6 linked regions of the Homo sapiens genome follow. The protein of the gene in region 3 purifies or fractionates together with the protein of the main gene of each other region. This does not show direct contact. Each region holds a gene or a part of one and is shown on either strand. Other genes may lie near its edges.

Region 1 (4,991 bases), on a different chromosome or scaffold from region 3:
GAGGGCTCTCTTGACACTGGCAGGTAGGCATGTGTTGGGGTGAAATGTCAGGAAGCGGCATGGGTACATTAGGGACATTTTGGGGCAGCACACAGGGGTAGGACCCAGGCAGCCCCTGCTCTCCTACCCTCCAGCCCAGGCATGCTGCACCCCTGCCTCCTTGGGAACTTTGGAACAAAGTCTCAGCAAACAAAGGACGCGTTCGTAAACTTCAGGCGGGTCCCCCGGCTGCTGCTAAGAGGCTATTGAAGCCGGCTCCCATGAGAACAGTATGTTATGAGCACATGGTTTTGCACTAGCGGGCAGGGCCAAAATAATGACAACACCTTCCCTGCTGCTTTGATACAGGAGGAGGGGGCGAGAGTTGGGGGGACTCCTGCATCAGCTTCAGGGAAATGACCTAGAAGGGAGAGAAAGCAGTAGCAGCCCAGGGTTGCTTCCAAGCTGAGCCCCTCTTCCCAGGCAGTGAGTGTCCCACTGTGTTATGCACCTGGAAGTGAGTCATTTGATAATTGCGGGGCTTTGTATTTTTCCTAGGGACTTCCAGCAGAGGACTGCAAAGTGCTCTGAATATTATCAGGAACTGGTTGTTACTGTGCCTATTAAACAGAAAAGCAAACAGTGCTGGAAGGGAAAGCCTTTCCTTCCTTTCACCCTCAGATAGCTCAGGCCACACTCACAGAATCTCTTGGCAGAAGGAGTCTCCAAAGCTCACTAGGTCTGCTAATATCAGAGTGAGACAGCAGGAAGGGACCAGAAGTCTCAGGCCTGGAGTTGGTGGTCTGCTTGCTGTTTTCTCAGTATTGACACTTAAAACTTTGTGGGATTCTTTATGCCATCTGTATGTGTTCTGGGCTACAGTGTCCAGACAGACGCCTGAGGTGGCAGAAAGAGTCCAAGGCCCTGGGAGAGAGCAAATCTAAATTCGAATCTCTTCTCTGTTGTTGTCCGTTTGGGGCAAGTCCCTCTGAGTCTGTTCTTTCACCTGTAAAACTAGGATAACACCCACCTTGAAGGGCCATTGTGAGGAGGAGAAATAAATATGTGTAAACCCCTAGAATGGGGCTTTGCTCAGTAAATGAAGCCACTATTTTTTTTTAATAAGGCCATTCTACTTATATGAACAATGTCATATCCATAACGGTGGATTCTGCAGATTAATGATACTCTAATTTTTATTTATAAACCTGAAAAAGCTAGGTGCATACAAGAATTAGGGCAATGACTTTAGCCACCGAAATGCTGGACATCAGAAAAGCACCTGAAGTTATGCCTAGTTGCACAAAACAAAAACTTTAATCAGGTGCCTTCAAGTGGAAGGACAAGGCGATTCCTGAAACCTCTACAGAGACACCTACTATATCATCTAGTTTTTCATCTTTCTTCAGGGCAGGGAGTCCTCCCTTTCCTGCCTCTTTCGTCTCCTGTGCTGACATTTGGCAGCCCTTGCTTAGGAGAAGCAGCAGGCATCACCTGATAAGATGTGGCGGAAACACAGGTCACCAAGTTAAGAGCATCAGAACTGCTGAGTGACCTCAGCCTTGTAAACAGTGCCATCCCAGGGACAAGATGGACATCCATGGCTGCCCCCTCTGACTCCACTCCCAAATTAGCAAGTGTATCTCAAGCACACCCAACTGAAAGCATTCCATGAATTTAGTTTAACCCATCTAGAATTCCACAGGGAATGCTAAGTTGAGTGAGGTGAACTGTGAGACGGGATTCCTATCTCCAGTTGGTCCTGCCTCTTGGGGCAGTGGATTCCATACACTCTTCCTCTCCATGTGCATTTCATCATAACGCTCCACGAGGCCGCTGAATCCCTGGCACAGGCCATGCATAACAGATACACAATGGCTGCTCGATCAATGAAGCCCCCGTAATAAGGATGTGAGCATCCTATTTCTCACTCTCTTTTGTGGGGAGGCTGAAGAATGGAAAGTCACTTTTCTGATGGCCCCATCACTGCTCCAGCCTGCCCTTCCCCTAACCCTCCTTACAGATCCAGGCTGCAGGAGGACCCCTAAGGAGTCCCGTTCAGAGAACTGAAGGAGACTGCAGCTGTCAGCACTGCGCTCTCTGACCCAAGGCCTAAAGACCCACCACCAACTGACACAGCCCAGATCTGAGACTGCAGCACCTCCCTCTTCTATTCACCCTGCCGCTAACTGGGCCCATCCTCTCCCCAGCCTCTGAGAAACACACCTGTGAACGTTACACCTTCTATGTCCCTTCCCTTCAACATGCGTCTCACACTTGAGGCCGATTTTTCACCTCCCCGTCCGCCTTAGGGTGGAGGCGTTGCCCTGAGCAACAGTGATGTCACCTGCAGGGTGCTTCCGTTTCACTGATGTCACGGGGTGGGCCTAACAGATAGAGGGGGGATGTGCTCTCTGTGGGGAAACGTCACAGGTCCTAAACTGTTGAGGAGGGGTCTACAGGCCTCTGGGGCACTCCCAAATGACCCCTTTCCTCGCCCAGAAGAGCTCCTTACCCTTCCTTCCTCTCTGGATGCCTGTTAGAGCTCAGGCCTCAAATCTGACTTTCCCTCTGCCAGAGTCAGCCAAAAGATCAGGATGAGCAGCTCCAAACAAACTGCTGGAAAGACCACTGAGGATAGATGTCCTCCCCGTCTAGGACAGTCTAGGTCCCTACAGCCTTGTCCTTTGTCCAGACCTCAGAGGAGGGAGCAGTGACCTGATGGGGAAGTTGGGGCCCAAGTCGGCAGAGAATGCAGACCTCCAACCGACCTCTGCTGTCCTGAAGAGCGCACACTGGCCAGGTTTCCAGTCTGCGCCAGGCACGGTGCTCAGAGCCTTCTGTGCATCGTCTGGGTCAACCCTCCCCACAGCCCTGAGGGTCATCCCCATTTTACTGATGATGTTACCGAGACTTGAAGAATCAAGGCACCTGCCCAACTACTGAGAACGCCCAACCACCGAGTGGTGGAGCCAGGACTCAACTCAAGTCTGCCCCACTTCAAAGCCCGTGCAGTCACACCGCCTTGGCTCTGGGCACCTGGAGATGTGGCTCATTAAAGATGAGCCATGAAGGGCCTGGACAGAGACCAGAAAGAGCCCTTTAAATCTAAAGAGGCCAGCTGAGCAGGGCAGGCTGCCTGAGGCAGCCGAAGCAGGCACTGCTTTAGGAATGCTTCACCCCCTGGCCTACGCAGGGGATGCAACAACTGGCCAGCCTTGGCCCAGCCTCCATGCTGATTGGGGACCACGTGTCTTTGCTCTATGCTTGGCTTTCTATTGATCCATCCAGGTTACCGGATCATCCTCTTGATTTGCATATAGCACTTACTCTCATGGCCTGGCCCTACAACTCTGAGATTGTACAGTAGTTATCGAATTTACGCAAATGCAAATCTATGTCTCTGGGAGCTAATGCTTGCAAAGCACTAAACAAATAGGTAAATAAAATAAAAAATTACTACATTATGAGAGAGGAAAGGGAGAAATGCTACCAGGATTTCTCAGGGAAATACTGCCCTTGAGGCACTGGCCAAGGAGATGCCCATAGCCAGGCTGACCTGAGTATCCAGTCTACCTGGCAGCTATCTTTCTGCTGGTGAGAGGGCCGCAGAGGTAGACAAAGCCCTGCACTATTGGACATCACTGTCCCCCACCCTCACCCCATGCTGCTCCTGCCTGGTTCTGACTCCAGCTTTGATAAGCGCAGTCCACCTTCTGGTCTTTGGTTTCCCATATGGCTTGTCTAGGACGCAGGGAAGAGACGACATTCAGTCTGTGTGATGTTTGCGAAGTCTCCTTGCAAATTAATAAACCAGCATTCTGATTCGTACACCCTCTTCTGGGAGCTTTCTCAGGGTGAATCAGTAGCTTGAGTCCAAACCACTCTGAAAATTATGGAAATTGGGTTTCTGAGCGGGCACAGCTAAGAGCCATGCCCTGGGACAGGTGACGTGATCCAGGTAAACACCACCCTCTGAGCAATCTGCTGGGCACCAGCTGGCCCCTCCCAGGAGGCATCTTGACTTCCTCACTGATGAGAAGCCTATTTTGTTTAAAGTGCCTATCGACAGTACATAGTGAAATGCTCGGTTCCAGCTAATTAAGCGCTCAGCTGTACGGTGTGGAAACTAAGAGATCATGTATATGGAACTGTGAAATGGAGTTTCAGGAAGGGTTCTTGGACGAACTTGAGAAGGGCATTTGTGGGTGAATGGGACTTCAACAAGGAAGCAAGAGACCACAGATGGGGATTAGGGGTTTGGAAGGTCAGGACAGTTGTCTCACCTCCTTCCACTCGCTCTCTGCCTAGGTCAGGACCCTGCGTGCAGCCACCGCCGTTTCCCTCTGAGCCACACCTGGGGGCACTTACTCATCACCCTCATGCCAGGCCCCAAACTGGATCTGCCACCTCACACCGCCCAGAGATTAAGGAAAGTCACTTGATTCTTGGGCCAGGCTCCCCATCAGCCATCAAGGCCCGGCTTGCCTCTTTTCTTTCCTCCTCTGCCTCCTGCCAGATGAATTTCCCCTCCTTCCTCCACCTGGACTGAGAATGGGTATTTCCTCCTTTGACAGAGAAAGAAAAAGGCAACTGTTCTTCCCCCTTTCCCACGAGGGTTCCCAATTAAACTAGCTTTTTAAGCTTAAGTTGCTTCTTGGTCTATGAATGCCCAGTGATTAAGACTCACCTTCCAGGCTCTGGAACACTTAACATCCCTGTGCCTCAGTTTCCTCATCTGTAAAATGGAGTTAACAATACCTAACTCATACGGCTACTGTGAGGATTAAATGAGTTAATACAGGCTAAGTACTTTTGGGGAAAAAAAAAAAAAGCCTGGCGAATGTTAAGCCCTCAATAGTGGTTGTTTATCAGGGCTGCTGTGTGAATGGTGGACCAGGCAGTGTACTGCTTAAGGCACCTGGCTGAGGGGTGAGGATAAATCCAGCTCACATGCCACTTATCCAGCTATATGGCTTGGCTATGTCCACTCAAGTAAGGCCAGTATTTCT
Region 2 (5,674 bases), on a different chromosome or scaffold from region 3:
TTTGATTTAAAGGTTGATTAATTTTTTTAAATGAGCACACCACAAATATGCTGCTCCTTACAAGATAAGAGCAGGTTAGATAAAGTCCCATTTTAGTTTTCTCTTCTCCCCCCCTTTTCAAAACCAATCCATAAATATACATAAAATGGCTGTCAGTTCAGTTTCATGGTTCTAATTTAAGAAAAAAGAAGCACCATTTTACAAGGTTCCCCACCTCACCTATACCCAGCCCCCACCCCCCCTTCTTTCTTTCAGAGCCTCTTCAGTTAACAGTTCACCGTGAAGGTCTCTCATGTTCACAGAGAGGCAAGGAGCCAAAATACTTGGGGTATTTTAAACCATCGCTAGAAATGCCACGGTGGGAACCTAAAGGATACTTTTCAGAGGCAAAAAGGCTGTAATATAATGCATCAAAGGAGCCCCAAGAAGCTCTTAAATCACCAATTGTCTCCCGGAGCTTTGAGTAAGGAGAAAAAAGGAGAGCGCATTTGCTTTGATGGTGGACTTCACTACCACGCTATTAAAGCACATCAGCGTCCTAATTGCATGCACGGTACCACTTAGCAGCGCTTCCCGGAGAGCGCCCTGCGACCACTTCTCATTGATCATGTCAGCGACGCTACCAAACCGCATCTTTAAGCCACTGAAATAGTTCTGCACGATGGATTACAAAGAACTCAGCGAAGGTATCCGCAATCTCCGAATACCTCCCGATGCCTAGAGTTTAAAAAGGACGTTCCTACCGCTTACCGGGAATCAGTACACCAAGGATCAGCACGAAAGCCTCCCTTACCTTGGGCTCCGCGTCTATTTGCAACGGTAATAGCAAGGTTTGCACGGAACTACCACCTCGACAGCATCCCCATCTTTGGAGTTGCTTATTACATTTAATTGTTAACGCTCCCCTCTCTCTTTTTTTTAATCTCAGGGAAAGGACGCCTGGGCTGATTAAGAGGCAAAATAGAAAGGTGGGAGGAAGAACTGTAAGCGACTTAGGTCAGTTGTTTAATATCCGAATTTCATCTCCCACAGGAATCAATATGACCCCCTCCCCCTTTTTTTTCTTGCTCTCTTTTTGTCCCCTTGAAGGCTTCCTTCCACTTCCTACTTCTGATCAACAGCAGCACTCTTAAAGGAAGGACATAAATGGAATGAGCGTGTGTGTGTGTGTGTGTGTGTGTGTGTGTGTGTTTGTGTGTGCGCGCGCGCGCATGCTGCGTTGGTTAATGGGGTGGAGGACATTTGATAGAAATGCTGGACTCTAGGAACCTATGCCTTTTCTCTGGTCAACCTTGCCTTTGCCTCACTACCGAAGTCTAATATCGAATTGCAACTCCAAACTAAAGCCAAGATGTTTCCGAGACAGCGGGTTCAAGCCTGGAGACCTTGCTCCTGATCCCCAAGTCGACTCCAGCCCGCGTTATTAAACGCCCCTGCATTCAAACGCACATGTATCAGTGTGCCTGCGAATCATTCACGTGTGGCCACCCAGACGTGTCGAGATGAATTGGAACCACAGTGCATAAACCTCGCAAGTATCCCCGACCTCCCAACGCAACGGTAAACGTCTCCCGGCTTAAAAGCGGCAAAAACATCCCCACCCCAGTGAAAGCAAAACGTTTACCTTGAAATTTCAGTTCTCCGCTGGATCAAATCCGCACATCCATTCAGCGAGGTTGGGTCCCCTCCCCCTCCCTCCCTGTGCTTCCCCGCCCCCATTCACCTCCCACCCCATCTGAAAGCCCATTGCAAATTCAGTCCAGCCAGTATTAAACTCCAGCGTTTACAACTTTAATTCAGTTCTAGTTAGCAAGGGTCGAAGAGCTTCCTCTCAACCCACTCCCTTCCCCCTCCTCCTTGCTAGCAAAGGAGACCAAAAATTTGAGAAAATAAAGTTGAATGAGCCTGGGGAGGCTGACATTCTGACGGGGAAACGCACCTCCGATGCAAATTCGCGGGTGCGCTGAACATTCTCAGATTCTCAGATTTTTTTTTTTCCTGGAGGGCGGGGGCGGGGGAACTATTCATTTTCTCCCAAAGAATTTAGATACTGGATCACCGCCCTGTACGTCCCTGCAGTAAGCAGCATGGAGCCTCTCGGACTGGAGCCCAGCACCCAGGCCGCACCGGAGGCTCCGGGCACAGCTGCTCAAGCAGCAGCCCAGGCAGAAGCACCCGGAGTTCCAGGACGCGAGGCTCCCCCTCCCCCACCCCGCCCCAAAGAGAAGGAAGGGAAAACGGAGGAAGAAGGGGAGGGAGGAGAGGGAAGGAAAACCACCCCGCCACATAGACACACACACACACACACACACACACACACACACACACACACACACACACACACCTCTTTTGCAAAGTAAACGATAGACTTACCCAGTCTCACATCTCCAAGGCCCAGTCATCATAGCCACCCTTTAAAAACACACACATACACAAAAACCCTCTTTGGGGTATGCACTAGGTTTCTCAAGCCCAGGCAGGGCGAGGAGACTGCGAGCAGCGCAGTCCCAGAGGCTGGAGGAAAGAGGCGCCCGGACGCCTCCAGCCTGGGGCCGCCGCCGCGGTGGCGACCGCGGGTTCCGGGGCTCCCCAAAAGGCTCTCCCCGGTGCTCTCCGCGGTAGTCGGAGCGGGCAGCAGGGTTGGGGGGTGGAGAGCGGGGGGCGTTCTGCAGCGGCGGGATAGGGAGGCGGCGGGAGGGGGCGGCGGAGGTCCGGCTGGAGAGGCGCCTCGCGGTAGGGGCCGGGAGCCGGAGCCGGGCGGGGCGGGGAGGGGGAGCTGCTGGGAGGGGAGGCACGGAGCGGGAGGAGGGGGACGCGGAGAAGACTGCCTGGCCCCGCCGGCCCCGCCAACGTGACGGTCAGCCCCGCCGAGCGCTCGCACCCGCTCACACTCATGATCACTCGCACACTCGCTCCAATACGTGTTAAGGCGCGATCGCGGGGTCCCTGGCAGCCTTCGCTGCACCCTCCCCCCCACAGGGGTACTCACAGTTGCCATCTGCATAGGGGGCAACTTTCTCCGACCCAGCTGTGGCCGCCGCCCCCTCCAGCCTCCTCTGGCTCCTCGCACCCTCCGGCCTGGGTTCGCGCCGGCCGGCCCTCCCCTCCCCCCTCGGCTCTCCTCCTCGCCGTCTTCACCACATTCCCCCCTGGTCAGTGGCGCACGCCGGGGGACGAGCCAGAGGGAGCGGGTCGCGGGGGTGTGCATGCATCTCCCGCCTTCTTCTTGCAGCGCACACTGTACATGGTAGTGAGGGGGCGAGCAAAGGTGGCACCGGCCCCTCGGCTGCTCCAGCGAAGGCGGCGGCTGCAGCTCCTGCGCTGTCCTCCGCCCCCCAGCGCAGCGGCGACCACCGCGCTGGGATCCCGCCGACGCTGTCTCCGCGCCGAGCCCGCCGCCGCCGCGGCCCCTAATTAGTATTTGAGAGGCTCTTGCATCCCTTTGGCAGTTTCATCCTCACGGTGTTTGCAGGGTTTTTTTCTGTATCCCTTCCCCAGATGCGGCGCACAATCGTCATTAGTTGGAACTCTCTATCACCGACATCCTTTGGGGTTTCTGGGGGAAGGGGGGGGCGGGCAGCAACCGCGTCGTTCTATGCCTGTGGCTTGTCCTGGCAGCCCGGTGGCTCTAAAAAAAACTCCGAGAAAGTTGCGTCTTCCTCCCGGGCGCCGAGGAGGTGGCAACGCGGTAAGCAACACCGGGTCTCTGAGACAGCTGCTCCGGAGCGGGTGCAGGGCCCAGTCCAGTGCACTTGTTTATTGTCGCGCCTCTGGTGCGAGCCAAGCTGCAGCAGACATGATGGGCCCGGGGCGAAGCGGGCGCTCGGTGGCCGATAGATGGCAGCCGAGGGCGAAGGCGTCCCTGGGCTAGGGCGGCGCAACCGGGGCCCCCTTGGATGTCACATTCGTAGGAAGAGAGAGAAGTCTTGGACCATGTGTGTAATTCGAGCGTGGGACTGTGCAATTCTCGGATTGGGAAAGGGAGGAGTGGAAATAACCCCGGCAGTGCCAGGCTTGCTGGTGGTCAGGAACAGATGATTCCAGCCCTGTGCTGATCGCCTGCCTTCCTCCTGCCATTCAGAATGCTGCTGTCTCGTGTACTTACTGTTAAGGATCCTGGAAAAGGGAGTGGTTCCTCCTAGCTGCAAACAAGGGCGCTACTTTTCTTTTCTCTTTAATAGAATTACGTTTTATAGGTGTGTCTAGGCAACACAAGGGAATGTGAAAGACTTTCAGAGGGAATGTTTGTGAATACATCTGGTGTGTACTAAAAAGCTGGAAAACCCCTAAGTAAATGCAATATCGATAGAAAGCGAGTTTCTTGAAGAGTCATCTGCTAAACTCCACTAGAGTCATCTCTACAGTAAGTATTCTTGGGTCTTTCCATGAAACCAGACACTTCCATCCCCAAAAAGGGGTCTTTACTTTCATAAGACATGTTTTCAATATTTGTAATATTAGACCTGCCGTTCATCCCGGGTATAAGAGAAAAGTTGATAATAGTAAGTGACCCAGTGCAGGCTGAGTGCACATGTGCCTGTTCCTTTGATAACTATGTAGTTAGTTTCTCCATGTAAATATATTTTACCCACTTTATTTTGCAATTAATTACGTCTTAATTATTATTGATATTGTTTTATTCTTAGTAATATTTGGGATAATACTGTGTTATAATCTGGTTAATCATATGTTTAATATTGATATAGAGTCTGATAATATGTCTATGTTCTGAGATGTATATATATCTCAGGTGATGAACATTGCAGTCTCCTGAGGTACTGCAATCTTTTTTGAACTTTCCCCTGCGTATGTTGTGTGAATATATATATTTTTACTTTATACCATAAAAACTTTATTTGGAAGCAATTTTGTTTAAGTATGGGTTATATTCAAGGGAGAGGAAGGAAAGAAGTAATATGTAATTTCAGACAATAAAAACAAAATCTTGTAATGAACGTTTCATTAAATTTAGAAGCATTTGACCTAGGAATGATAGCCACTAGCTGTAGATACATTGCATCAACAAATATAACTTACACGTCATCCACAAAAGGCTTATTTCTGTATTTTTTATTCAGTCATTAACTTTTAACATTATATAAACATTTCAGAAAATTTATTTTAAGTTTAAAATTACTTTTATATTTTCAAAATGAAATGAAATATTTAAATTTAAAATTATATAGGAATTACAGCCAGAAGCCTTTGGAATATAAATATTGAGTCCTATCAGAAACATAATTTTCAATATCGATTAACTTTGTAGAAGTTCTTAAAGGTCCTAAATTGTCTTAATCGATTATTGATTTTTTCAAAATAGCTGAAATAAAGCTGTTATATTTTATCACTGTTCTAAATCTTTATAATTTCATTCAATAGCAAAGTTTAATTCATGGTTTTGTATTATTTTTATTTTAAATATTTATTGTTCTAATTAAAGGAAATATTATTCAACTAAGAAGTATTAAATATGTTTGGAATTAGTTTAGGTTACAGTTTTGTTAGAAACACTTATGCTAATAATCTAGTTTACCTCTTGTGGTTCAAATAAGTAAATGATGAAAACTTTCTGCCATTAACTCAACATTAAGGATGGTCCCGGAAGCCACCATTACCTTTTGCCACTAGGTGTCTCTATAAGATGCTCTGCAAGAGAATGAAATTTTAGAAAATA
Region 3 (4,991 bases):
GAATTTTTATCTTTTTTTTTTTTTTTTGAGACAGAGTCTCACTCTTGTCGTCCAGGCTGGAGTGCAATGGCGCCATCTCTGCTTGCTGCAACCTCTGCCTGCCGGGTTCAAGCGATTCTGCTGCCTTAGCCTCCCACGTAGCTGGGATTACAGACTCACACCACCACACCGGGCTAATTTTGTATTTTTAGTAGAGGCAGAGTTTTGCCATGTTGGCCACCCTGACCTCGGGTGATCCACCTGCCTTGGCCTCCCCAAGTGCTGGGATTACAGGTGTGAGCCACCGCGCCCGGCCAGGTGTGTGTCTTTATGTGAGTGGGTGTTGCGCTCCTCCCTGCGTGTGGACTCACTGGAGAATGTTGTGGTCAGGGGCTTTCTTCACGCTATGGGGTGCTGTTCCACCACAGCTGCTGCAGTCGTGGGTCACACCTCTGCAATTCCCTGTGGCCCCGCTGAAGTGATGTAGAAGGACCATATGGCCATCCCAGAAAAGCTTACCATGTCCACTTTCTTTTTCTTTTTTTTTTTTTTGATACGGAGTCTTGCTCTGTCGCCCAGGCTGGAGTGCAGTGGCGCGATCTCAGCTCACTGCAACCTCGGCCTCCCTGGTTCAAGCGATTCGCCTGCCTCAGCCTCCTGAGTAGCTGAGATCACAGGTGCCCGTCACCATGCCTGGCTAATTTTTGTATTTTTAGTAGAGACGGGCTTTCACCATGTTGGTCAGGCTGGTCTCAAACTCCTGACCTCAGGTGATCTGCCTGCTTCGGCCTCCCAAAGTGCTGAGATTACAGGCGGGAGCCACCGCACCTGGCCAACGTCCACTTTCTAATAAGGTCAAATGGATAATGTGATGAGGGCCAGTGGAGGGCACCCAGACTCTCCAATTCTCAGTCCTCAACTCGGAAGAGCCACAGGAAACCCACTCTTTGGGCTTCCTGGCAGCCAATTCTCTACTCCTGCCCACTGGGCCAGAAAGTGTCAAGCAGAGGGCCTTGCCTGAACTCTGAAAGGCTGTTCATTTATCTCTCCTCTTCCTGTGCCTGGTAACCCCTGAATAACTACTGTGTAGTTAATCCTTTATTGCCTCTGTAAGAGAATGCTGGAGGTCAAACATAGCAGAGATTAATAATAATATGAGTGATAACGGATAAAACGCGTAGCACTGACTACCTACCAGGCACTGTCCTGAGTGCTTTACATGTATTAACCCATTTAATCATCAGTCAACACAGCATGATGTTATTGGTAGATATTATTATTACGTATATATTCTACAGATGGAGAAACTATGACCTAGAGTGACCCCAATGTCACCAGCTAAGGGTGGGGCTGGGTTTAAACCAGGCCAGTCTAGCTTGTAACCTCTATGTCATATTGGAATAGACTCTAGCACAGTGGTTATAGGTTCCTACTAAAAGAGGTTAAAAACCATGACAGCTATGCTTTAAGAATACATACTTGAATGTAAGTGTTAGCCCTGACATCCAATTTGTCTTCCCAACGCCTAGTATATAATATGGCTCAAGAAATGTTTATTAAATATGTGTTTCATTTTTTTTTTCTTTTTTGAGATGGAGTATCACTCTGTCACCCAGGCTGGAGTGCAGTGGCACGATGTCAGCTCACTGCAACCTCTGCCTCCCAGGTTCAAGCAATCTTCCTCAGCCTCCCGAGTAGCTGGGACTACAAGCATGTGCCACCATGCCTGGGTAATTTTTGTATTTTTAGTAGAGACGGGTTTTTACTATGTTGGCCAGGCTGGTCTCGACCTCTTGACCTTGTGATCTGCCCGCCTCGGCCTCCCAAAGTGCTGGGATGACAGGCGTGAGCCATGCACCTGGCCTAAATATGTGTTTCTTGAGCAGACTTTTGATATCATTGTTATATAGATGAAGGGGAAAATTACTGGAAATTTCTCAGTTTGGACCCAAGTCTATTTTCACATCTAGGCTGAAAGCCCTAGAGGAGGCTTGGGTATCCACGCTCCGGGTCTTCTTAGCCTGAGCGTGGTCCGGGCTGCCGCTCTGCAGAGTGGCATGGCAGCAAGTCCTCCCCGCAGCTGTGTAAGCCTTAGCGGTCAACTCGTCCACAAACTCCGAGGCAGGCTTCTCCAGCTCTCAAGCACCTCACCCGGAGATTCTCATACCATCGGTGCAGCTCAGTCATCCAGTTTTTTGTTTTGTTTTGTTTTTTTCTTTTTTTGAGAGAGTCTCACTCTGTCGCCCAGGATGGAGTGCAGGGGTGTGATCTCGGCTCACTGCAACCTCCGTCTCCCGGGTTCAAGCGATTCTCCTCCTTCAGCTTCCCAAGTAGCTGGAATTACAGGCATGCACCACCACGCCCAGCTAATTTTTGTATTTTTAGTAGAGACGGGGTTTCACCATGTTGGCCAGGCTAGTCTCGAACTCCTGACCTCAGGTGATCCGCCGGACTTGGCCTCCCTAAGTACTGGGATGACAGGCGTGAGCCACCGCGCCTGGCTTTTTTTTTTTTTTTTTTAAAGACAAGGTCTGGCCCCATCACCTAGGTTGGAGTGCAGGGGCATGATCTCAGCTCACTGCAACCTCCACTTCCTGGGCTCAAGCCACCCTCACATCTCAGCCTCCCAAGTAGCTGGGACTATAGGTGTGTGCCACCGCACCTGACTGATTCTTGTATTTTGTAGAGATGTGGTTTCATCATGTTGCCCAGGCTAGTCTCCAACTCCTGGGCTCAAGTGATCTGCCTGCCTCGGCCTCCTAAAGTGCTGGGATTACAGGCCTGAGCCACTGCACCCGGCCTGAATCATCCAGATTTTTAACAAGTTGTTCTTGTTCCGGGAGGATGCCCTAGGCTGGTCTCGGATGCCTCCTATCCTCAGCAGGCGTGAGAACGGCGGGGCAGGGACTGCCTGGCTCTTCCCAGGAAGCATCTTAAAATCCTGTGGTTAAAGGGCAGCTGCACATGCCCCTGTGCTAGGCAGGCACAGAGTGATGCAGGCTCCTTCATTCTCTGCCCTTCCTGATGGACAATCTGTCAGCTTTCCAAATGGACCAAGCCTTGTCAGGACAGGAGCAGCCGACAGATCAGGGTTCAAGGGAAACTCACCAACTTGCAGACTCCTTGGGAGGCTGCTGTGGCTGTTCCGCTTCTGTTCCTCCAGCCCACGGTCAGGAAGTGAAAACCCAGGCAGAGCCAAAGAGGCAGCAACTCCATCTCAAGGGCAGCCCTGTGGACAGAGAGCAGGGAAGAGGTAAGTCAGAGAAGGACATCCCAGAGGGCTGTTTGTATTATCGGCAGAAGGAGCCAGTTCCAATTCTATGTGGTCTTGGAGCTCTGTGGAGCTCCATAGAGGTGCAGCCCACAGGATACTCAGATACCTCCATTTAGCCAAGACTTCCGGCCTTTCACTGAAACTGTTGACAAGAACTCAATTTCATTTTGCCTCTACCACTTGATGGACGGGTGGCTGAACACTAAACTTCAGCGAGTCCAGCACAGAAGGGAGAAGCAAAAAGCTTGAGTAACCAGGCCTCCAGTCACCTGGAGTTTCCCATATTTTGTAATTCTGCTGAAGTTTTCCTGCCTCCAGCTCCAATCGGTCTGATGCATCCCCTGAGCTCAGTAAGTACTTGCTGAGTGAATGAATGAACAACTGGAGAGTGGACGGAGACGGAAACACGGATGGGGGCCTCTGTCCCAGAGTTACTCCTCAGCTGCTGATGTGGGGCTGTTACAAAAGCGTTGATCTCTTTGGTTCACTCATTTGACTATGACCCTTTGAAAAAAGAGGTTTGATATTTTGCTTGGACGGGGGAAACACGGAGGGAAAATGAAGAAGCAATCTTTGGGTAGAATAAAGGTGGTTAACGAAACGTGGTTGCCAGCCCGCTTGCCTGGCCAGTGCACAGAGAACAGCAATAATGAGAAGGCTTGAAGGTATACACGCACCAGCAGAGATTCAGAACTAAGGGGAGCCATAAGGGAAATGCAATATACTCATCACATTTGCCAGGTGAACAAAGGCCCAGAGATACTACTCGAGGTTGTGGATGAACTTAGTGGCAGGGCTAAGAGCAGCCCCGCCTCGCTCCCCGAGCTCCGATGAGTGAGCAGGGCAGTTTCTCCCAGCAGCGAGGCTGCACTCACTGCTGCCCTGCTGGGGACCTGACGCCCAGTGCATGCCCCCAGCTCTGCATTCTGCAGACCCAGAGGCAAGAGCTGGCCCCAGCATTCCATCTGCCCATTCCTTGACACCTACCGGAGGCCCAGTGTCTGCCCTCCCATCTTCTCCTGGGCCAGCGGCACCAGCTCACCCCACCTGCTCGCTCCAGCCACTCAGGGGCCTCCTCTTTCCTTTCTTCAAATGCATTTAGGGATCTTGAAAGCTCATTTTACCTTCTTGATCAGATTTGAATGCTCACCAGTGCAAACAGACTAATTGAAGAGCTCAATGAAACCGGGTAAGCCAGCTTTCACTTCAGGCCAGGCCAACTCCCCTTACTACAGAGAGAACCTCCAATGCAGAATTTACCAGAACTTGCCAGACACTGGGAATCCCCTTCCAGACCCATTTCTGCCTCTGCACCCACACAGGAGTCATTGCCTTGTGGCCGGCACAGGGAAGAGAGGGCAGAAGCAGAGGTGTACGGGTTCCTGACCTCAGGATCCCCCCAGCACCCTTCCCCGCCCCTGAAACCTGGGATCACCACCACTGCCCGCCATGAAATAAGGCTGCATAGTTGCAGATTTAGTAAATTACAAGGCATCATTTCAATGCTAGATACATCCTTATACTAACAAATTGTTTATCTGACATTCAAACTTCACTGGGCATCCTGAATTTTACTGAGGGGAGATGGGGAGGTAAGAACCCTCCCTTCCTCCCTGGCCACCTCTTGTCAGGTGTGGGGTGGTACCTGCTGCTGTGACTCCAGTCTCTCTGGAAGAGCCAGCCCTGCGTATCGAAGAACTGAATCTAGACGTGTAAGGGGCAAGAGTGCAGGTCCCTC
Region 4 (4,991 bases), on a different chromosome or scaffold from region 3:
GCGGCAGGAGCCCAGCATGAAGCATGTCCTTGCCAGGCTCGCTATGACGCTGGGCTGGAGGCGTCAGGACACTGGACAGGTGGGTAAAACGTGGTGGCGGCTGTGGATATGCCCGGTGTGTGTGTGTGGGCTCAGCCCCGGGAGAGGCTGCAGTCATTCTTAGAGGGCTCCTCCTCCTGGCTCCTGTCCACGCTGGGGTGGGTGGGCTTCAGGCCAAGTAGAACCAGGGCCAGGCAGGCAGCCTAGGAGCCCACAGGGCCCCTCACTGCCCGGGGGAGCAGCTCCAGAAGGGCCCTGACCCCCCGCCAGGATTCCCCAGATGGCAACATGGAAGTGTACCCACACTGCTCCCCTCCTCCCCTCACACTGCCCTGGGCAGGGGTGGGGGTGGGGGGCATGGAGGGACCCCGGGGAGCACAAAGCGCTTCTTGGTGTCCGCTGGCAACTGCCTGATCTGACCGCACACCTCCCTGCAGGGAGGGAGGCACAGTGCCTGGCAAGTGGTGCGGTGCCACTGCAGGCCACCCCCGCCTATGAGGACATGTCAGAAAGCCCCAGGGGTGGCAGCTCTGAAGCAGGCGGGGTAGCCAGTGATGGCTCCAGGGGCAGGCAGCAAGGCCAGCACTACTGCATGCAGACTGCCGAGGAAGGGACAGGCAGCTGTCATCCGCCCAGTGTTTTCTGTGGCCTGGCAGGCTCAGACCCTGCCCTGGAGGAGCTCTCAGCAGATGGGGTGGAGGAAGGACCCAGCAGGACTGAGCTGACGACCCCAGGGTCAGGCACGGCTGGTCTCCAGGGGGCAGATAAGCTGTGGGCAGCAGGGGCGAGAGCAGGCCTCAGTTTCCCTGCTCCAGGCTCCCACTTCACACGTCCCAAGGCACACCTGGCCCTCCCCAAGCACCCTGCACCCACAGCCTGCCTGGTACCACCCATCCATGCTGATGGCAGCAGCTCCTGGGCACTCGGGGCCTCAAGGGCCAGAGGGCGGGACCTTCTTCAGGTAGCAGGTGAGACAAACGTTTTAGAAACAATAATGACCAAGGGCCAGGGAGTAAGGGCCCGAGGCGGCCGGGGCAGGCTTCTGTCTCCTGCCTCAGGCTCACGAGGCCCTGACTGCTCAGAAGAGGCTATCCATATCCTTCCTAGCTGACCCTGTGTCCAGGGGAGGCATAGGGCCGCATGGACCTCCGCTCCCCACTCCTGTGGGGCCGTGACCAAATGGATGGAGACAGGCCAGTGTGGCAGGTTTCTTCTGAACACAAAAAACCACAGTGTGATGTGTCCACCAACAGAGAAGCTTGCCCTCCTAGCCCCAGCCAATGACCCTGTGAGTTACAGCCACAAGGACTCTGGCCCCAAGGGTGACTCTGAGGGCAAGGACACGCTGTGCACAGTGCAGCAGGCCCCATCTGGGAAACACAAATGGCTCAGTTCCTCTCCCATTTTCAGCGCCCCAGCCCACAGGCGGGTCCTTCAGCCCCAGCCCCACACCCATTCAGGGACCATCCCCTGAAGCCCAAGGCATGCCTCCATCATGAGCTCCTCTGCCCATGGCCCAGAGAGGGTGTGTGACTTGCCCAGGGCCACAGAGTCATGACACTGGCCAGGGTCTGTGCTAGCTGACTGGAAGACCTGCAGAGCAAGCTGCCCTGTGCCTGGTTAGCAGCGGGGACAGATCCCGTCAGAGGCCCAAGCATGCAAGGGCTTGGCACCCTGCAGATGGGGTCTCCCATGGTGTAGCCTGTGCCTGTGTGTGTATCGTGCAGGCTCCAGAAGACGCTGATGAGCCTTAGAGCCTGCTGGTCATGTCTGGAGCCACCTAGCCAGCGCTGGGCCTAATGACTGAGGGAGCAGGCAGAAGTGGTGTGAGGCCCCTCGGTGGAAGGGCTGCTTCTGGGCTGGTGGAGGGTCCGGGTCACCTGCCTGGCTCCCACCTGGGAATGCATGCAGGCACCAGGCCTCGATCCAGCCTGTTCCTGGACAAGGGCCCTGGCTCCTCAGCTCTGGGGGTGCAGAACACGGGGAAATGCGAGGGAGGGAGCACAAAGCGGGGAGCTCGTGGCCAGGCTGTGAAGTGTTTCTGCTCAGTTCTGTCCGCCCCTGCTGTCAAAGCCTCCAGCTTCATGGCAGGACAGACTCTACCTGCCCTCACCCTCCTGCTCACAGTGGGCGGCTGCAGCCCCAGAAGACGCAGCACTCAAAGCTGGGGTTGCCACCTGCCACGATCCTGGCCTGCAGTGACGGGTGGGCACGAGGGCCCCGATTGACCCGAGGGCTTTCCCCTCCTGGGAGGAACTCATTCCTCAGCCGCACACAGTGGTCTGACCACACCGTGGGTCTTGGCAGCCAAGCTCGAGCGGCTGCCACTAGGGCACATAACTGCAAATGCCAGGTCAGCACCAGAGCACAGAGGGATGGAGGTGAAGCCGGCACCTTGGGAAGGGCCAAGACATGGTCTACACCAACCCCATACCCAGGTCCCCTGGGCGTTCAGATGGCCCCTGGCCACCTGAAGGCAGGAGCCTGGTGGTGAGGGCAGCCATGGGCCACAGCCACAAGGCTCCCTTCTCTAAGTCCCTTCTCCCTGGCAGCGACGTTTCTGAATGACAGCCTCCTCACCCCTGCAAAGCTCAGGGCCTCTGCCGTGGAGGGGCTGGAGCGTCTACCTGCTGCCCTCCCGATGTGGCCTGGTGCCCCCTCCCCTCCCCAGCACCGTCACGGTCTGCAGGTAGGAGGACACGGGTATATCACCCCTGGTCTCTGCATGGGCCATGCCCTTCACTGGAATGCCAGTGTGAGTGACCGCCCCTTGGTCAGACCTCTCCACCTTTAAGACCCAGCTCAAAAAGATAAGCGGTTGCCAGTGCAGGAGTGCGAGAAGAGCCCAGAGCACCCAGCAGGCACATGTAGTATGCACAGTGGGCCGGCTCTAGTAGCCCCAGATGGCACGCGACCTACTGACCATCACGGGTGGGGGTGGCAGCAGGCTCAGTTACCACGTGTCCGACGGCAGCATCCTCTCTACACAGCTGAGGGGACACAGCTGAGGGGAACAAAGGCCTCTCTGCCTGCGCCTGCAGGGGCAGTGTCTTGAGGGGACAGTGAGACCCCAGGGCAACTGAGGCAGAGTTGGGGGCCAGAGACAGGGAGGAGAGAAGAGGGCTCGATTTTCTGGGTCCAGCCATTGAAATGACTCGGGTTTTTTGTGTGTGAGCCACTTAGAGAAGCCGTGAGCAATTTACTCTTTGGTTTCTGAAAAAGCTGGGAGGGTGAGCTGCTGAAGACAGACACTCATTTGAAAGCCATCTAAGTCCGGGGCCCTCAGAGGACTGGAGGGGAAGCTTTCTCCTTTACTGCCCCAGGCCTGGCTCTCTCCTCTGCCAAGGCCTTCTGTGCACAGGAGGTCTAGCAGGCACCAACAGGGGCAACGGCAGGGGAAAGGGGCACCTGAGCCAGCGAAAGCCCTCATGGTCCCTGGAATGACCAAGCCTGTCAGCCTCACCTGTCCTTCCTGCGCCCATGTCCCACATAACCCTTCTGGACCAAGGCCTCCCGCTGCAGGGACAGCTGCTGGGGAACCACACCAGGGAGGCGGGTGTGTTCAAAGATATTAGCAGTGCTGGCCCAGCGGCTCTGCGTCTTGTAATAAAATGGCGCAACGGACACTGCACCTGGGGGAGCCTTAGGAGCTGACCGAGGCCCCTGCCCTAAGGCCCAATGGCTTACGCTGTCCCCACGGCTCCCTGTGCACCTTCTCTGCTCAGAACATTGCCATGCCCTGGGTCCCCTTGTTCTGTCCCCTAGACACGGCCTGTGGTATAGACAAAGGGCCAGCCAGACTCTAGAAGCTGCCTGTGAGGCCAGCAGCCAAATGTGGGTGTTCCTGCCCCTTTCTGCAGATGTGACAGCTGATCCAGGCAGGGTGACCTGCCCTTGGCCACCGTCCAGTTCCTACCTACACCTGCCTGAACGGTATGGAAGCCACTACCTGGCACGCCCCTCCATAGCCGGTGGGACTCTTTAGGAGCCAGAGGCGTCCAGTCCCATGCCCAACACGCAGAGCCCTCCCCTCCCCTCTGCCTTGTCCCCTTCCCTCTGCCAAACACTGCAGGCACTGCTGGCCACAGGCACGTCCTGGCCATCCTCTGGTCTGGTGCCCCAGCTGCGCCTTGCCCTGTCCCACCTCCTGTGCTCCGTCCTCTTTCCTCCATTGCATGCGTTGCCAGACGCATCTGCTGTTTACTCTCCAGTCTGTCATCTGCCAAAAGGCGGGGTGGAGGTGTCAAACAGAAGCAGGAAGAGGGCGGGGTGTGGCGAGGTGCAGAGGACTCCCCAAATGGCCCACCCCAGATCTAGGCAGCTCTCTGACATGTGCTCTCTGGAGGTGCCAAGGGGGCGGCTCATGGCTCAGAGGTTTGAGGAATGGTCTGCACACTCACGGTGGTCCCCAGCCCCTGCCCTCAGGAGCCCAGGCTCATCTAATCCCTGCCTCGCACCCCCTGCTGAAGGGTCTGTGCCCCAGAGCAGTCTTCCCTGCACTGACACCTGGGACCCCACAAAGCAGGGGCTTTGTGCCTATCACTATCCAGCAGGGTCTATCCATTCAGGTGCTCCAAGTGCCTGCCAGCAAGGCTTCCAGAAAGAGGGGAGAGAGAAAATAGAGGAGATGATGACAGAAATAACCAGAATTGGAGTACATCATTCACGGAGACTGAAATGGCTGACCAAGTGCCGAGCAAATGAATGTGGGGAATGAACAGAGGACTAAAAAGTTGACCCTTGAAGCATCTGGACAAAAAAAACAATACATAAATGGCATGCTTCTCCATTGCAACGCCGTATGTTAGAAACCATTGGAGCACGGTCTTCAAAAGGCAGAAGGAAAATGACCAATCTCATACCCAGCCAAACTATCAATCAAGTATGGACAGTAGAGATGTGTTCAGACATACAAAGACTTAGGAAATTTACCTTCTGTGAATCTTATTTTA
Region 5 (5,292 bases), on a different chromosome or scaffold from region 3:
CTCTGCCTGGGGATTCTGTTATAAACCTTCTGCCTACATTGGCTTTCACTGTGGAAGTTGATTTCTAAAACTCTGATGAGCTCACAACGTTGACATGTATATGCGTTTTTTGTGAGTGCTTCCTGCTCAAAGTGGGAGAGATTTTACTGGAAATGCAATAAAGTTTGCATTTTATTGCTACCGATGCCCACCACAAAAGCGTTAACCTCAGAAAGCTATAAGAAGCATCAAAAGATTGCCATAGCCCCCTGTAAGAGCTTCTGAACATTGTCCAAATGAAAGGAGGCTCAGCTGAATTCTAATTTTCCTAAAGACCCATGTTTTTAGCATCTATGAGCTTTCTACAAATCTCCCCATTGGCTGCATCTCTGACCTTGCACCAGTATCTGGTTGGGATTCCCTTTTTTTTTTTTTTTTTTTTTTTTTGAGACAGAGCCTTGGTCTGTCGCCCAGGCTGGAGTACAGTGGCGAGATCTCAGCCCACTGCAACCTCTGCCTCCCAGGTTTGAGCGATTCTCCCGCCTCAGCCTCCCAAGTAGCTGTGATTACAGGCGCCTACCAGCACACCCAGCTAATTTTCATATTTTTAGTAGAAACAGTGTTTCGCCATGTTGGCCAGGCTGGTCTTGAACTCCTGACCTCAGGTGATCTGCCTGCCTTGACCTCCCAAAGTGCTGGGATTACAGGCATGAGCCACCAAGCCTGGCCGGGATTCCTTTTCAAAGTCTGGCTGCACCTAGAGCCAGTTTGCTTCTGCTTGGCCTCATGGGGCCTCAGAGAAAGCCACAAAGGAGGATGGGTCTTTCCTGGGTTCATTTAACTGCCATTTATAACACTTTTTCCTCTAAACAGCTTAATGGACTTCCTACTACTTGTATAGTTTGATTTTCAGGACTCTGTTCAGCAAGAATACCTACTTTACAAAACTCAGCATAAAAATGAGGTGAAACAGTTTAACTAAAACTGGAGTTTGGCTGGGTAGTGTGGCTCACAACTGATCCCAGCACTTTGGGAGGCCGAGGCAGGAGGATTGCCTGAGACCAGGAATTTGAGGCCAGCCTGGGCAACATAGTAAGACCCCCGTCTCTATCTTAAAAAAAAAATAAAAGAATAAAACAAGTTCCTTCACCTCTTGACAAGACAAAGCTGACACTTTTTTTTTTTGAGACAGAGAAAAAAAGAAAACTCTACAGCCAGAATCATACTTTTGAGTCTCGCTCTGTCGCCCAGGCTGGATGGAGTGCAGTGGCGTGATCTCAGCTCACTGTAACCTCCGCCTCCTGGGTTCAAGTAATTCTCTGCCTTGGCTTCACGAGTAGCTGGGATTACAGGTGCTCGCCACCACGCCCGGCTAATTTTTGTATCTTTAGTAGAGACAGGGTTTCACCATCTTGGCCAGGCTGGTCTTGAGCTCCTGACCTCGTGATCCACCCGCCCCGCCCTCCCAAAGTGCTGGGATTACAGGCGTGAACCACTGCACCTGGCCACTTTCTTAAACCTACACATTGGTTGCTGTGATATTAATTCTATTTTTACAAAATAAGTGTATAACCAGGAAGTACTAATCCTGCTTTCTATGCCCAATTGTTAACAGGAAAGGGCTCAGTGCACTTCTCAATTGTCACCCCTGCCCCCAGCCCTGATCCACGGCCTCTACCCCAAGAATGAGCCAAGAACCAGCTGCTCTAGGGATCTCAGCAGCAAAATCCTGCCCAAGGCTGTTAAAATGTGTGGGCACTCATTTACACTCGTGCTGTCATGAAACACATCCTTGAACAGGGACTATTCTCTTTCATTTCCATAAGCAAACTGGCGTCTAAGGCCACAAGCCCTCCGTAAAAATAAGAACTCGGCACAAATGGCCAGTCACATGCTTACCTGCATTTTTAAAGACAGCTTTCAGGTATTTGGGGACTACATTATTACCAAACCTTGGCTTTGGGAGATTATACAGGTCCGAGGAACTCGTGTCTACTGCAGACGAATGCAATTACCCCACCTTCCTCCATACAGAATTGTTAGGAAATGTCCACTCCTTTGGGGGTGATTTTTCTCCTCAAGTTGTAGCCAACATTTTGTCCGTAACTGATTTCAGGGCAAACATTTCTGACATCTTCCTCCAGCTCAGTCTGCCATGCCTTGGCAATCCAGTTTCCTGTCATATGCGAGCCATCCAAGTTGATGCCAAGTAAGATTTGCCCAGCTCAAAGTGAAAGTGTTTGCGTCTTGGTATCCGGAATCCTCAGCCCCAGTAGCAAAGCTTTAGTCATTCACCTTCATCCAATAGACGTTTGTGAACGTCCTGCTGTCCATTTTGTCAATAAACAGGCAGCCCTGCAGGTGGTCCATCTCGTGCTGGATGATGCGGGCTGCCCACCCGCTCGCCTGCCACACCACCTGTTCTCCATTGGGGTCCAGCCCTGCAAAGGAAGTTACAGCCCTGGTGAGTGGGAACAGCTGAACTGCATCATCCTCAACCTCCCTACCCCTGCCCCCGGTCCTGGCTGTTCCCATTGACAAGAGGCAACAGCAGATGGCAAATGTAGACAGCAGCTCCTCTTCTAACTGGAAAACGTCCCTCATCTCGGTCCATTACCAAGCGTTCAACCTGGTTCCCAACTCTGGTAATTAGGTTATCGAGCTCACTGTAGAGCTGAGATGAGAAATCATCTTTCTACGGTGCGACCCTTCCGAACACTCCTCCCACTTCTGAGGTACCTGTGGGCTCCCAACTCCTAACAGAGGTTCTGCAGCTTGAGACCCCACTTGTTTTTCTGACCATCTTGAACCGACGGGCTTGCTGTGCAGGAACAATCACCCCGACCCCAGCAGAGCCCGCATTCCGCGAGGCATCCTGTGGTACCACGGGGGAATGGCCTAGCCCCCTGGGCTGGGTCAGGCTGGCGGGGGCTAACCCCCACTTCTCCAACTCCACCGTGGCGGATCTAACTGGGGCCGAAGAGCGTGTTTGCCTCAGAGAGCAAGGGAGCAGAAAGCAGACGCCAGGCTGTCAGGTAACAGCGGAACTAGGGGACCTCTCCTCGCCCCTGCGTCCTATCTGAGCGGGCTCTACCCCACAGGAGCTTCTATCCGTCCTGAGGCCTCTCCGCTCCCGCATCCCACTTCGCTCCTGCGGGAGGTCCGGCGTATGAACCGCGACCACTTCTGCGCTCTCGCGGAGTCGGGCAGAAGAGACGCGCGCGCTGCTCCAGCAGCCCCGGTCCCCGCCGCCCGCACCTGAGATCTGCACCGCCTGGAAGCGGGGCACGCAGGCCAGGAAGCCGGCGACGCTCTCGCAGCCCTCGGGAAAGGTGACCAGGCGGCTGTCAAGCACTCGCAGGCTGGGGTTCACGAACACGCGCAGGGGGAAGGGCTCCATTTGGCGGAGCGCGCGCTGGCGGGGCGGGCACTCCCGACACAGCGCCTCGGGGAGCTCCAGCGCCAGCACCTGCCGCGGCACCCCCAGCTGCGGCGCGCTTAGGCCCACGCAGCGCCGCCGCCGCATCACCTGGACCAGCCGTTGCGTCAGCCGCTGCAGCTCGGGCCCGCCTAGCTGCGCCCGCTCCACCGGGGCCGCCACGCCGCGCAGCACCGGGTCCCCGACTTGGCACACGTGCGAGAACGGCGGTTCGGGAGGACCCAGCACCAGACGCCTCAGGTGGCGCCAATAGGAGCGCCGCAGCGCCGGGCCCTCGACGCCGTCCGGGGCGGCCGTGGAGCTGCAAGCCCGGACACCGACGGCTGCCGCCCCGCCCCACGGCACGGCCGCCCACAGTGGCCAAAGACTCAGCGCGCCCCACAGCCGGGCCATGGCGGCCCCCTTAACAGTGACCCGGCCCGCCCCTTCCGGCCGCAGCGCGGGGCACGCCGGGAAGCGCCGTCGGCCAGCACACAGCGAAGCCGCGACTGGATCCCCGCCTTCCTGCTTAGACTGGCAGTGAGCACCGCCCCCTTCCGCTCTCCTCCCGGGAGCGCCTTCCCGCCTCCCGAACCCGCCCCGGACCTTCCAGGGCGAGGCAGTCCTGGCCACCCCGCGCCGGGAACCTCACGCACCGCGTTCTGGAGGCAGGGGACGCCGGCTAGGGCCCCACGCTGGGCGGTTCGGCCTGCGTCTCCGCTCGCCCTCCCTCCGGGCAGGCTGGGCCCGCGGGCTCCAGGCGTGGCTCCTCGGCGGGAGGCTCTGGTGCTGGAGCTGTGAGCTCGGGCCCCAGCGCCTGGTCATCCAGGGTGAAAAGCGTCTCTCTCTTTGGCAGGATAAAGGCGAGGGGCTCCTGAATGGCGCCGATGTTCACATGCCCTAGGTTACCGTACTTGGAGAGCTGAGTGGGAGGAATGCCTAACCCAGACGTGGGGAAAGCAAAATGGAAAACAGTTACTAATAAAACTCAATATAGAAATTTAAGGGAGGCCGGGCGCGGTGGCTCACGCCTGTAATCCCAGCACTTTGGGAGGCCGGGGAGGGGGGGGCGGATCACCTGAGGTCAGGAATTCGAGACCAGCCTGACCCACACGGAGAAATCCCATCTCTCTTAAAAATACAACATTAGCCGGGCTTGGTGGCGCAGGCCTGTAATCCCAGCTACTTGGGAAGGCTAAGGCAGGAGAATCGCTTGAACCTAGGAGGTGGAGATTGCAGTTAGCCGAGATCGCGCCATTGCACTCCAGCCTGGGCCACAAGAGCAAAACTCCGTCTCAAAAAAAAAAAAAAAAAAAAAAAAGGAAATTTAAGGGAAAAAAAACGAGCCATTACTATTTTTTTTTTTGAGACAGTCTCGCTCTGTCGCCCAGGCTGGAGTGCAGTGGCGTGATTGCTGCTCACTGCAACCTCTGCCTCCCAGGTTCAAACAGTTCTCATGCCTCAGCCTCCGTGGTAGCTGGGATTACAGGCGCCCGCCACCATGCCAGGCTAATTTTTGTATTTTTAGTAGAGACGGAGTTACTATGTTGGCCAGGCTGGTCTCAAACTCCCAACCTCAGGTGATCCATCCGCCTCGGCCTCCCAAAGTGCTGGGATTACAGGCATGAGCCACTGCGCCCAGCCATCAATTACTATGTTTTAATACAGCAAAAACCACCTTTGTTACAGGGAATGGGAAGCTATACTGTGAAGCAGAACGTAACGGAACAGCAGTGTAGGGTGCCTGCAGCAGGAACCCAGACCTCAGGCAGCACCAGGGAAAAAGCAGAGGGCAGCCAGGCTTTGCACGTGTGATGCACTGACCCATTGCCCTTTGGGAAGCTGTGCCTCAACCAAGCCCCTCTCCTACCACAAAGGGACAAGGACGTGAAAGT
Region 6 (3,682 bases), on a different chromosome or scaffold from region 3:
ATGCTTAAAAATGTATGTAGCTGGGCGCGGTGCCTCACACTGGTAATCCCAGCACTTTGGGAGGCTGAGGCAGGGGGATCACTGGAGCCCAGGAGTTCAACAGCCTGGGGAACATAGCAAAACCCCATCTCTACAAAAAATAAAATTATTTGGGCATGGTGGCATGTGCCTCTGGTCCCAGCTACTCAGGAGGCTGAGGTGGGAGGATTGCTTGAGCCTGGGAGGTTGAGGCTGCAGTGAGCTGTGATTGGGCCACTGCACTCCAGCCTAGGCAGTAAAGTAAGAACCTGTTTCTTAAAACATATATATATGTATATTCAAATCTGTTAGCAGAAAGTACTTTAAGCAGACTCTAACATAAATTCCTGGAAGACCAAGCTAAGAAGTCTTATTTTGCTGTGTCCTGATGCATGTTTCTGTCTGCTGAGATTTGACTCGATGCCCCTCGCCGCAGGCTGTGCCTCAGGGCAGAGGTTGGGCGCTCACTCCTGGCCGAGTGCTGCGGGGAGGGGCGGTCTCCACGGAGGATGGATGCGGCTAACCCGCTGCTTGTCTGTCTCTTGGCGCAGTTGCCATCAACCTGATCGTGCAGCACATCCAGGACATTCTGAATGGTGACATCTGCAAATGGCACCGAGGAGGGTCCAATGGGCGGAGCTACAAGCGGACCTTTTCTGAGCCAGGGGACCACCCTGGGATGCTGACCTCTGGCAAACGGTCACATTTGGAGTCCAGCAGCAGACCCCACTGAGGGGCTGCCGAGCCTCAGGGCAGGTCTCCCGCCCGGCATGTGTGTTCAGGGACTGAGCCTGGGGACGCCCACCCACACCCACTGCTTCCTCTCGGCGCACCCCAGGGGAGTGTTAGCAGCGAGGCCTTCCTCACTCAGGAGTGGAAACTCAGATGTGTCACTCAGACTCAACTTGCTGGGACACTGACAGGCGTTCCTGAGGTTTTCAGCCACTTAGGCTCGTTGCGGTTTAAAGATCCCTCTAGGTCACTGAGAAATGCCACAGAATGTGCAGGAAGCCTGGGAGGCTTCTGTGAGGAATGTGAGGCACATTATTGGGGAAATTGAGGAGACAGCCTAGACACTGGCTGGCCTGATGTTTTGTTGACAGTGAACCCACAGTGGGAGAGAGTTTTTTCCAGTCTGATCTGGTTCTTACACACTCACACACATAACTCAAAAGTTTTGTGAACAAGTACTTTCCTTTTTTACATGTTACATGTCCTCATGTTTTCTGTTTTCTGTTTCATAACACAAGGCTGGTTGTGGCCTACAAACCTAATTTCATGACCCAGTGGTTTGCAGTCCAGCGTGGCCTACACGGATATGGGGAGCCACTGAGGGATGTTTTCCCCCCTTGCTTGTGCCTTAAAGGCAGAGAAGCGAGGCGGATGCCCTGGAAGCACCCAGCATCACACCCAGGCTTGTGCGGGGCCAGGCTGGGAGCCCATGCAGTAGGGCAGAAGGCAGCGGAGGCCAGGTCTGTCCCGGCTGGAGAACAGCGTCCACGCAGTCCTGCCTGGGGTCAGGCCCTCACTGACCCTCAGGGGAGCCCCCAAGGTGCTGTCTGTCTAGACAGGCTGTCCCACCCCAGGGTGGCTAGTGGCCATATGCAGGGAATGGTGCTTCTGGCTGTGGCACGCACTGGATCACCCAGGTCCCAGCAGACATGGCCGCCCAAAGTCAGCAAGCCTCCTTTGTGCTATGTGGAGCTCACAGCCTCACATGTGAACACCCGTGTCTGGGTTGCCTGGGGTGATCCTCCCTCCTGCGTGGTGGCTGTCTCTGGAAAGCATCCCTTGCCGCTGCCATGGGCAGCCCCAGCCCCCGTCCGTCCAGGCTCACCCACAGTAGTGATGCAGACGTGACGTGGGGGAAGGGGGCTGAGCCCTGTGGCTGGGTTCTGACAACTGTAACGGTTTTGTCGAGCTTAGGCCCCTTTGGAGGGAGAATCAATAAATAACAAACACCAACTACAAACGCCAGTTGGTTCCTTTTTTAATTACATTTAAAAAAGACAAAGGCATGGAGCTGTATGGATGACACACCTTGACCACTGACGAGGAAGATTTCACTCAGCCACGTCTCAGTGGAGTCTCAGAGGGGAGGGTTTCCACACAGCACGGTGCCAAGGGCCAGTCTTGACGCTGTCATAGACAATGACATGCAAGCCCCAGCCCTGGCTCGTGGTTCAGGTGGCCCTCCAACACTGAGCTGTCCCAGGACGCCTGCCGGGCTCGCTGAGGGCAGGGCCGGGACTTGCTCAGGTTGCTGGGTGTTCATGAAGGAGGATCGGGTCTGCCAGATCAAACTCCACCCTGCAGCAGTTAGCAAGGACCAGGCCCTGGTCTGCTGAGGCTCCACTGCTGGCCCTGGGTTCTCGGCTTTTTGTTGTCAATGACTCCTACGCTGGCCTCTGAAATACTCCCTGTGTCTTAGTTCAGGGGTAAAGACACGGAATATCTTTATTGTCGAGAAAAAATTAACTTTGCACAAAAGGAGGTGCTCATCAGAGAGCTTTTCAATGAGACCCCCATGTGTTCCACTAGAGGCCCTGCTCAGCCCAGCCCGTGTCCTCCCAGCGTGGGGCCCACCCTGCTCATTACGTACATTGACCAAGACCCTTCAACCTCATCCCGACCCCAGCACGGGTGTTCTTTGCCACACTCTTGTTCTAGTGTTTTCGGATCAAGATGTCCCAGCTGTCTTTCCAGCGAAGGGCCTTGAGTTCATGTGGCGAGAGTGACTTGTCCCCGTAGGTGAGTGGGCGCAGCGTGTTGGACACGTGGCACGCGGAGGAGTACCAGGCCACCACCAGGGCGCTGAAGATGCTCCTCTGGAGCTGGGACCTGCAGAGGTCAGAGCAGCGTGGGGGAGGGTGGCTGACCACTGCGGCTTCCCTGCCCGGCACCCTCTTGGCATCTGCTGTCCACACGGTCACCCCCCGAGGCCTGGGGTTCTGCCTTCAGGTTTCTGTGTCTTGTCTCCTGCCACCCATGACCATCTCCCACCTGGATGCACTGAGAGGGGCCCCCTGATGACTCCTCAGGCCTCCACAGTGGCTGGGCCACCTCCACACAGATGCCAGAGGACTGGTCCCAAACCCACGGTCCTCCCTTGTGTGGCTTCCTGAAACCGGGAGGCCCTCGCCCTCTGCTCCAACCTCCAAACACACTCTGGTTTAGAAGCTTTCTTGGGTTCTCTCCACCACACCACACAACCCGACCATAACCAGCTGCCGTTTCTGACACCCCAGGCTCCTGGGCCTTGCTCCCTGCTCCCGAATCCTCCAGGCCACCCACATCTCTTCATCCCCTCCCCGTCTCCCCACCCACTCCGCTTTCATCTCTGTCAGCCGCGACTTCTCCCTCTGGGTTCCTGCAGTGCCTCATCTGGGCATCTCTTCTGAACCTCACCCATTCCCCGGAGGGACCCGGAGGATGTCAGTGTAACGTGAAATGGGTGAGGTTCGCTGCACCCCATGTGTTTGCTGCGCATGGGCTTCCCAGCAGAGGGCTGCTGCCCGGTCCAGCCACTGTCTCCGCAGCCCCCGTACCTGCACAGGTGGTCGCTGATGTGCTGCAGGACCACAGGGAGCAGAAGGATTTGGAAGGTGAGTGCGGGCAGGTAGTGGTAGAGGAAGAGTGTCTTCTCCATCAGGAAGAACGGGAG

Evidence for each region.
Region 1: the proteins of NRROS (region 3) and ITPRIP purify together in Homo sapiens (affinity purification with mass spectrometry; 2 studies listed by BioGRID and IntAct, with this or other methods). This does not show direct contact.
Region 2: the proteins of NRROS (region 3) and SLITRK5 purify together in Homo sapiens (affinity purification with mass spectrometry; one large-scale study listed by BioGRID and IntAct). This does not show direct contact.
Region 4: the proteins of NRROS (region 3) and HS6ST1 purify together in Homo sapiens (affinity purification with mass spectrometry; one large-scale study listed by BioGRID and IntAct). This does not show direct contact.
Region 5: the proteins of NRROS (region 3) and PDF purify together in Homo sapiens (affinity purification with mass spectrometry; one large-scale study listed by BioGRID and IntAct). This does not show direct contact.
Region 6: the proteins of NRROS (region 3) and POMT1 purify together in Homo sapiens (affinity purification with mass spectrometry; 2 studies listed by BioGRID and IntAct, with this or other methods). This does not show direct contact.

Annotation. Positions count from the first base shown.
Region 1 is NC_000010.11:104,331,133-104,336,123, forward strand, and holds part of ITPRIP (inositol 1,4,5-trisphosphate receptor-interacting protein precursor), read right to left. Parts: intron 2,774-4,991; exon of another isoform or gene 2,495-2,773; intron 2,367-2,494; exon of another isoform or gene 2,206-2,366; intron 1-2,205. UniProt on the Homo sapiens protein: Enhances Ca(2+)-mediated inhibition of inositol 1,4,5-triphosphate receptor (ITPR) Ca(2+) release.
Region 2 is NC_000013.11:87,669,525-87,675,198, reverse strand, and holds the start of SLITRK5 (SLIT and NTRK-like protein 5 precursor), read right to left. Parts: upstream 3,829-5,674; 5' UTR 3,419-3,828; coding exon of another isoform or gene 2,894-3,418; exon of another isoform or gene 2,832-2,893; intron 2,611-2,831; exon of another isoform or gene 2,374-2,610; intron 1,976-2,373; exon of another isoform or gene 1,625-1,975; intron 1-1,624. Other genes in the region: formin-like protein 5, read left to right, coding at 2,894-3,418. UniProt on the Homo sapiens protein: Suppresses neurite outgrowth.
Region 3 is NC_000003.12:196,652,744-196,657,734, reverse strand, and holds part of NRROS (transforming growth factor beta activator LRRC33 precursor), read right to left. Parts: intron 3,209-4,991; 5' UTR 3,196-3,208; coding exon 3,088-3,195; intron 1-3,087. UniProt on the Homo sapiens protein: Key regulator of transforming growth factor beta-1 (TGFB1) specifically required for microglia function in the nervous system.
Region 4 is NC_000002.12:128,269,519-128,274,509, forward strand, and holds part of HS6ST1 (heparan-sulfate 6-O-sulfotransferase 1), read right to left. Parts: intron 1-4,991. UniProt on the Homo sapiens protein: 6-O-sulfation enzyme which catalyzes the transfer of sulfate from 3'-phosphoadenosine 5'-phosphosulfate (PAPS) to position 6 of the N-sulfoglucosamine residue (GlcNS) of heparan sulfate.
Region 5 is NC_000016.10:69,326,760-69,332,051, forward strand, and holds PDF (peptide deformylase, mitochondrial precursor), read right to left. Parts: upstream 3,830-5,292; 5' UTR 3,812-3,829; coding exon 3,238-3,811; intron 2,421-3,237; coding exon 2,263-2,420; 3' UTR 154-2,262; downstream 1-153. Other genes in the region: COG8 (conserved oligomeric Golgi complex subunit 8), read right to left, coding at 4,080-4,336, 4,476-4,616. UniProt on the Homo sapiens protein: Removes the formyl group from the N-terminal Met of newly synthesized proteins.
Region 6 is NC_000009.12:131,522,109-131,525,790, reverse strand, and holds the end of POMT1 (protein O-mannosyl-transferase 1), read right to left. Parts: coding exon 3,567-3,682; intron 2,860-3,566; coding exon 2,685-2,859; 3' UTR 1,992-2,684; downstream 1-1,991. Other genes in the region: UCK1 (uridine-cytidine kinase 1), read left to right, coding at 570-751. UniProt on the Homo sapiens protein: Transfers mannosyl residues to the hydroxyl group of serine or threonine residues. Coexpression of both POMT1 and POMT2 is necessary for enzyme activity, expression of either POMT1 or POMT2 alone is insufficient.